Homo sapiens: one gene and its partner. The protein of the gene in region 1 interacts with the protein of each later gene in a pairwise test. Each region holds a gene or a part of one and is shown in the gene's direction. Other genes may lie near its edges.

What was found.
Region 2: the proteins of UCK1 (region 1) and PLA2G12A interact in a two-hybrid assay, tested with the Homo sapiens proteins (one large-scale study listed by BioGRID and IntAct).

Annotation. Positions count from the first base shown.
Region 1 is NC_000009.12:131,525,651-131,528,456, reverse strand, and holds part of UCK1 (uridine-cytidine kinase 1), read left to right. Parts: intron 1-1,953; exon of another isoform or gene 1,954-2,012; intron 2,013-2,479; coding exon 2,480-2,528; intron 2,529-2,806. UniProt on the Homo sapiens protein: Phosphorylates uridine and cytidine to uridine monophosphate and cytidine monophosphate. Does not phosphorylate deoxyribonucleosides or purine ribonucleosides. Can use ATP or GTP as a phosphate donor.
Region 2 is NC_000004.12:109,709,344-109,713,250, reverse strand, and holds the end of PLA2G12A (group XIIA secretory phospholipase A2 precursor), read left to right. Parts: 3' UTR 1-3,262; downstream 3,263-3,907. UniProt on the Homo sapiens protein: PA2 catalyzes the calcium-dependent hydrolysis of the 2-acyl groups in 3-sn-phosphoglycerides. Does not exhibit detectable activity toward sn-2-arachidonoyl- or linoleoyl-phosphatidylcholine or -phosphatidylethanolamine.

The DNA of each region.
Region 1 (2,806 bases):
TCTGGGCCAGTGCTCTGAAATCTTGGAGTGAGCGCTGTGCCCAGATCCCAGCTGGCTCGCAGAGAGCAGGAACTCCCCGCTGCACACCCACCTGTCTTTTCTCCATTTCTCCATCTTGTGTTTCTGGCTTGGTGGGACTCGTGGCTCTACTCAAATGGGAGTGTTTTGCACGGGAACATTTTGCCTGTTAAGGTAAAAATACAGCACAAAGGAACTGAAACCAAGATTCCTGCCTTTGATAATGTAGGACAAGTAAGTTCTATCTGCTGCTTTTTTTTTTTTTGAGATAGGGTCTCTTTTTGTCGTCTAGGGTGGAGTGCAATGGCACGATCTCGGCTCACTCCAAACTCCACCTCCCAAGTTTAAGCAATTCTCCTGTCTCACCCTTCCGAGTAGCTGGGATTACAGGCGTACGCCACCACACCCAGCTAATTTTTGTATTTTTAGTGGAGATGGGGTTTTGCCATGTTGGCTGGGCTGGTCTCGAACTCCTGGACTCAAGTGACCCACCCACTTTGGCCTCCCAAAATGCTGGGATTGAGCCACTGTGCCTGGCCTTTTTTTAAATTTTATTTTTAATGAGGCAGAGTCTTGCTCTGTTGCCCAGGCTGGAGTACAGTGGTGCAATCACAGCTCACTGCAGTCTTGACCTCCTAAGCTCAAGCGATCCTTCCACCTCAGCAACCCGAGTAGCTGGGCCCACAGGCGTGCACCACCATGCTCGGTTAATTTTTAAATTTTTTGTAGAGATGGGGTCTCCCTGTGTTGCCCAGGCTGGTCTCCATCTCCTGGGATCTAGTGGTCCTCCCACCTCAGCTTCCCAAAGTGCTGAGATTACAGGTGTGAGCCACTATGCCTGGCCTATTGGCTGCTATATAAAGAAAACTTTTGTTTTTTTTTGCATTCATGCTGTCTGAAATTTCTAAAATATAATTTTAAAAGTAAAGTTAACTTGTTTTAGTCTCTCATTCACAGAAAGATATTTGGCAAAAAGTAGGTGATTCGCAGTAAAACTCTGGATATCAAATCTGCCTCAGCGACCTGAGTAGAGGAAGTGCTGTCACCTGCTATGTTCTGGGCCCAGGCCCCAGAGATGTTTTTGGTTGGTTTGTTTGCTTGCTTGTTTTTTGAGACAGGGTCTCCCTCTGCCACCCAGGCCCAAGTGCAGTGGTGAGATCTTGCTTCACTGCAGCCTCCACCTTCCACTCTCAAGTGATCCTCCCACCTCAGGCTCCTGAGTAGCCAGAGACTACAGGCACGCACCACCACGCCTGGCTAATTTTTCCTTTTTTTTTTTTTTTTGCACAGACGGGGTTTTGCCATGTTGGCTGGGCTGGTCTCAAACTCCTGGCCTCAAGCAGTCCACCCACCTCAGCCTCCCAAAGTGCTGGGATCACCGGCGTGAGCCACCGCACCCGGCCCCAGCCCCACCCAGAGCCGTTCTTGAGCCTCCTTTTCCTTCACCTTCATGTTGAGTGGCTTGTGCAGTCCTCTGCCTGGACCCCGTAGGTATTTCCCAACTGTATTCAGGCCCATCCCTGCTGGCGGTTAAGACCCCTGTCAGCTCTCCCGGACTCCTCCAGCCCGTCAGACTATCAGACTAGAATAGAAAGCAGCCCTCGCCCTTGCGCTCGTGCTTTCATGAGATGGGGTCCCACCAACTGCAGACACAGCTGTCCCCAGGACTTGGTCCCTGTCTGCCTCTTGCAGCTTGTCTCTTCTGCCGCCTTCTTGACCCAAATCCACACGCCAGCAGCACGCACCGTTCCAAGTTCCGTCCTTCGGCCCAGACCCTGCCCTCCCTCTTCCCTCAGCTTTGTCTGATTCAGCCATGTTCTCCAGGCTGCTTCCCCTTCCCTAAAGCCACCCCCCAACCCCCACCATCTGGCTGCGGACCCTCCCCAGCAGCCCTGCATTTCCTGATATATCTCCATCCTTGTCCTTCCTCAGCAGCAGAGCATCTGACAGGGAATGAGAGTCAGCATTGAGCCAATGAGTGGTTGGATGAGGGAGTAAGTTACCATCAGCGTCTCTGCCTGCAGTAATTATGCACGGCGGCGGCTGTCCTGTTGCTGTGCCAGGGTATTTGCAGAAGCTTCATGATTCCAGAGGAACAATGTCACACTTTGTAGAAGTGCCACACTTAGCTTGGCCCAGTGAATTGAGTCGTTAGCGTAGCCAGCTGTCTCCTGTAATGGAGTGGGAACACTGGAAGGGGGCTGTCTTCTGTGATGGAATGGGGACACTGGAAGAGGCACTTTCTTTTGGCTGCCTCAGCTGCACTTTCTGCCTCACTTCTTGGATCATGGCCTCTCACACCTGGCTGATGACTGAGTCTGTGTCCCCCATTTGCCGATGACACCAGCACCTCTGAGCACCCCAGGGCCGCCCCTCCTGCTGTTGCATCTGTTTCTGAGCATCTTAAAATCACCTTTGAAGGAAAAGTCCTCACAGGAACACCCCCCCTTGTGCCTTACAGACAAAGAAGTATGCCGATGTGATCATCCCGCGAGGAGTGGACAATATGGGTAAGAAGCTGGCCTGCTGGGCTGTCCCCCCGCCCCTCCCAGAGCTTGAGGCAGGGACAGTTCCACCAGTGTGCAGTTACTGAGCACTCCCCTGCGCACGCGGCCTGCCAGTGTTGATCTGCGGCACAGGGTTAAAATATGCTTAAAAATGTATGTAGCTGGGCGCGGTGCCTCACACTGGTAATCCCAGCACTTTGGGAGGCTGAGGCAGGGGGATCACTGGAGCCCAGGAGTTCAACAGCCTGGGGAACATAGCAAAACCCCATCTCTACAAAAAA
Region 2 (3,907 bases), on another chromosome or scaffold:
TCTCTTGGAATGCTCAGTTATGTTCCTAGACCGGTCTTTGCTGACTACTGGTTGTTAACCTTTCCCTAGCCTGGGACCTCAAGCCATATATATCCTTTGGGTGACCCATGGCCAAAGTTATTAAGATGAACTGACTTTCAAAGTCAGAGAAGGACAGCATAGGGAGAGGCGGTTATTTGTAAGTCATTACAGGTAGAACAGGGCAGAAGGAAAAGTATGTTCTGGAGAAAGGGCCATGTTCCTAACTTTGGAGATATGTCATTGCCGGGAACCTAGTATCTTCCAACTTGAATTGGTGGCAGCTGTTCCAGTGAGACAAGGCACATGTATGCCTTGTGGCTAAGTGAGCAAACTGGGTTTCCACTTAAATGTTTGGGACCCTCAATTGATTCTTTATTTCAAACCTTTATAAAAGGTACAGTTTTGTAAGCCATTATTAATAATTAATGCTTATCGGCTGGGCACAGTGGCTCACACCTATAATCCCAGCACTTTGGGAGGCTGAGGCGGTTGGATCACTTGAGGTCAGGAGTTTGAGACCAGCTGGCCAACATGGTGAAACAGCGTCTCTACTAAAAATACAAAAATTTGCCGGGCGTGGTGGCGCATGCTTATAGTCTCAGCTACTCAGGAAGCTGAGGTACGAGAATCACTTGAACCCAGGAGGTGGAGGTTGCAGTGAGCTGAGATTGTGCCACTGCACTGCAGCCTGGGCAACAGAGCAAGACTCTAAAAAAAAAATGGTTTATCAATATTTACTATTGAAATATTTGTCCAGGTAACTTTACACTTACAATGAATTCATGGATTTTGTTAGCAGCATTGGCTTTCTCAAAAGGACAAACTCAATATCGTTATAAAATATAATTCGTGATCACAAATTATACAAAAATCAGTAGAAACAGTTTTTTATGTTCAGATTAAAAAAAAAAACTTGGGATAATTTTAGATTTACAGAAAAGTTGCAAAGATACATGGAGAGCTTCTGTGACCACTCACCCAGTTCCCCCAGTGTTAACCTTTTATTTAACCATGAAGCATTTGTCAGAAGCTAAGTAACCAGCAATGGCAATTACTATTAACGGAACTTTGACTTTATTTTTCAGATTGTACTAGTTTTTTAATTAATGTCATTTTTCTTTTCCAGGATCCAATCTAGGATACCACACTGAATTAGTCGTCATGCCTAATTAGCCTCTGGTCTGTGATAGTTCCACAGTCTTTCTTTTTCATAACCTTGACAGTTTTGAGGAGTACTGGTCAGGTGTTTTGTAGAATATTCCTCAATTTGGGTTTGTCTGATGTTTTCCTCATGGTTAGAGTGGGGTTATAGATTTTTAGGAAGAATACCAGAGGTGAAGGTCCTTCTCACTGCATCATGTCAGGAGTTACATGCTATCAGCTTGATGGTGTATTAACTTTGGACACTTGGTTAAGGTAGTGTGTGTTGGTTTTTTGCTGCTGAAAATTACTGTTATTTTCCCTTTCCATACTTCTGTTCTTTGGAAAACAGTCACTAAGTCCAGTCATGGGAGGTGGTGGGTGGGAAAGATTACATTCAACCCCCTGGAAGTGGGAATATCCATATGTAGTATTTGGAATTTTTCTATATGGAAAATTTGTTTCTCCCTCCCACCCTAATTTGTTTACATCAGTATGGACTCATGTATATTTTGTATTTTGGGTAACACAGTATTTATTTTGTTGCTTAAGTTGTCCAGCTTGGCTATTAGGAGTTCTGCCAGGTTGGCTACTATGTCCCTTTGATGTGCCCATCCTTTTGATTTTTGAGCACTTCTTACTTTCTGGCACTACAAGATGCTCCAGGTTCATCTTGGATATTCCCTGCCCCAACCCTAGAATCCCTAGAATCAACCCCTGCTCCAAAGAGCCCTGGTTCCTTTTGTTGGAGAATCATACTTAGAAACCAAGATCTGGGCATTAGATGTGCTTGTTGCTACTGGGATGTCACTGTTTGTAGCAGAGTTGAGAAATATGTATGTATATTAATCCATGCATATGTACACATCTATAATTATTTATGTGTGTACAAAGCTAAACATGAGTTTGTACTGCCGTCTTCAACTCAAAATTTGTCCCAAAATTTTGTGGCATATGTTTAGATTTTAAAGTTGATATTTTCCCTATTGACAGAATAAACTCATTAAAAGAGCAAAAAAAAAAAAAAAAAAAAAAAGGCAAGAACTAACTGTCAGCAGCTCTTTGCAAGAAATGTAATATTGATACTTTAAAATAATACTGCCTTCAAATGATGCCTGTCTCTTTAAAATCTTTTGACATAGTTCTTCCAGGGACAGATATGGCTGTATTTATTTCATAGATGGAGAAACTGAGCACAGAGCTGTAATGAAGACAGAATTGAGATATAAGGGCAAAAGCTAATTAAACGCATCCTCACAGGTAGCCTTTCTTTCAGTGAACCTGTAGACTAGTCCAGTAATACTTATTAAAATTAGTTGTTAGAGGCTGGGCATGGTGGTTCAAGCCTGTAATCTCAGCACTGTGGGAGGCCAAGGCGGACAGATCACTCAAAGTCAGAAGTTCGAGACCAGCTTGGCCAACATGGCAAAACCCTGTCTCTACTAAAAATACAAAAATTAGTTGGGTGTGGTGGCACATGCCTGTAATCCCAGCCACTCGGGAGGTGAAGGCACAAGAATTGGTTGAACCTGGGAAGCAGAGGTTGCAGTGAGCTGAGATTGCACTGCTGCACTCCAGCATAGGCGTCAGAATAAGACTCTGTCTTGGAAAGAAGAAAAAAAATTGTTAGCCTAAAACCAACTCTCTCTAAATTTAAAAGAGTGATTATTTATCTTAGTATTTATAGAAGTATGAGATTATCAGAAGGTGCGATGCACAATGCTCATTATTTTATCCTAGTACAAGACACGTATAACATCTAACAGTAAAGAAGATGGAATCTTTCTATAAAAACAATTCTGTTATTAATAGTTGACTGACTTCAGTAACTTTGAGGAGTAGAATGAAACTTATTAGGCAAGATCTTTCCACATACACTACATTGTATTGTTCAAAATTCATAGAAATTACTTGCAATATATTGATTTAAGCCTTATGTAGTGACTGTTGCTATATTTGAAGTAGCATTTTTAGTTTGCTGTTTTTCCTCACTGCTTAATCCTACAAAAACCAGCCATCTGCCTAAAAAATAAAAGAGCAAAAATGAATCAGTGCAACCGGTATACGAAAAATAATAATTATTAATAAAACTGTAAAGGGATCACTAGTGTCATCTTTTATATATGTCACAATGATGTTAGACTTTTTGCCTCAGGCTTACTTATTCAGTTTCCATAACATCCTTCAAAAATCTCCTTGTTGACAACTTGACAAACATTTCTCTGTTGGCTTTCAAGTTTTAAGTATAGCAATCAGAATCATCATAGAAATTAATATTTCTATGAATTCTGTAAGAAAAAATATTAAACACCAAAATCAGTGACCAAAATTTTTAAGTTGTAGAATTATCTCTGAACTTAACTTTATTCCCTATATTTCATTCCTATGATAGGTGACAAGCCAAGACCTTCAGTTTTAATAAGTTCCACTTTTATTTATATTTTAAAATAATATATTGCCTTTGAATAATGCCTATCTCCTTAAAATCTTTTGGCACATTTCTTCCAGGGACAGAGATGGCTGTTTATTTCATAAAGGAGACATTGAGCACAGAGAAGCTGTAATGAAGACACGATTGAGATATGAGGGCAAACCAGTTTCAATAAGTCACTTTTATGGAAAACTATTCAGATATAGGAAGAATCAAGTCATCCTGTCAGTTAACTTAGTGTATCTGAATTTTAATGGATTTGCTGTGGGAATATTTTTCTTTGAGAGGGAAGAGAGTGCTTGGTAGGATTCCAGT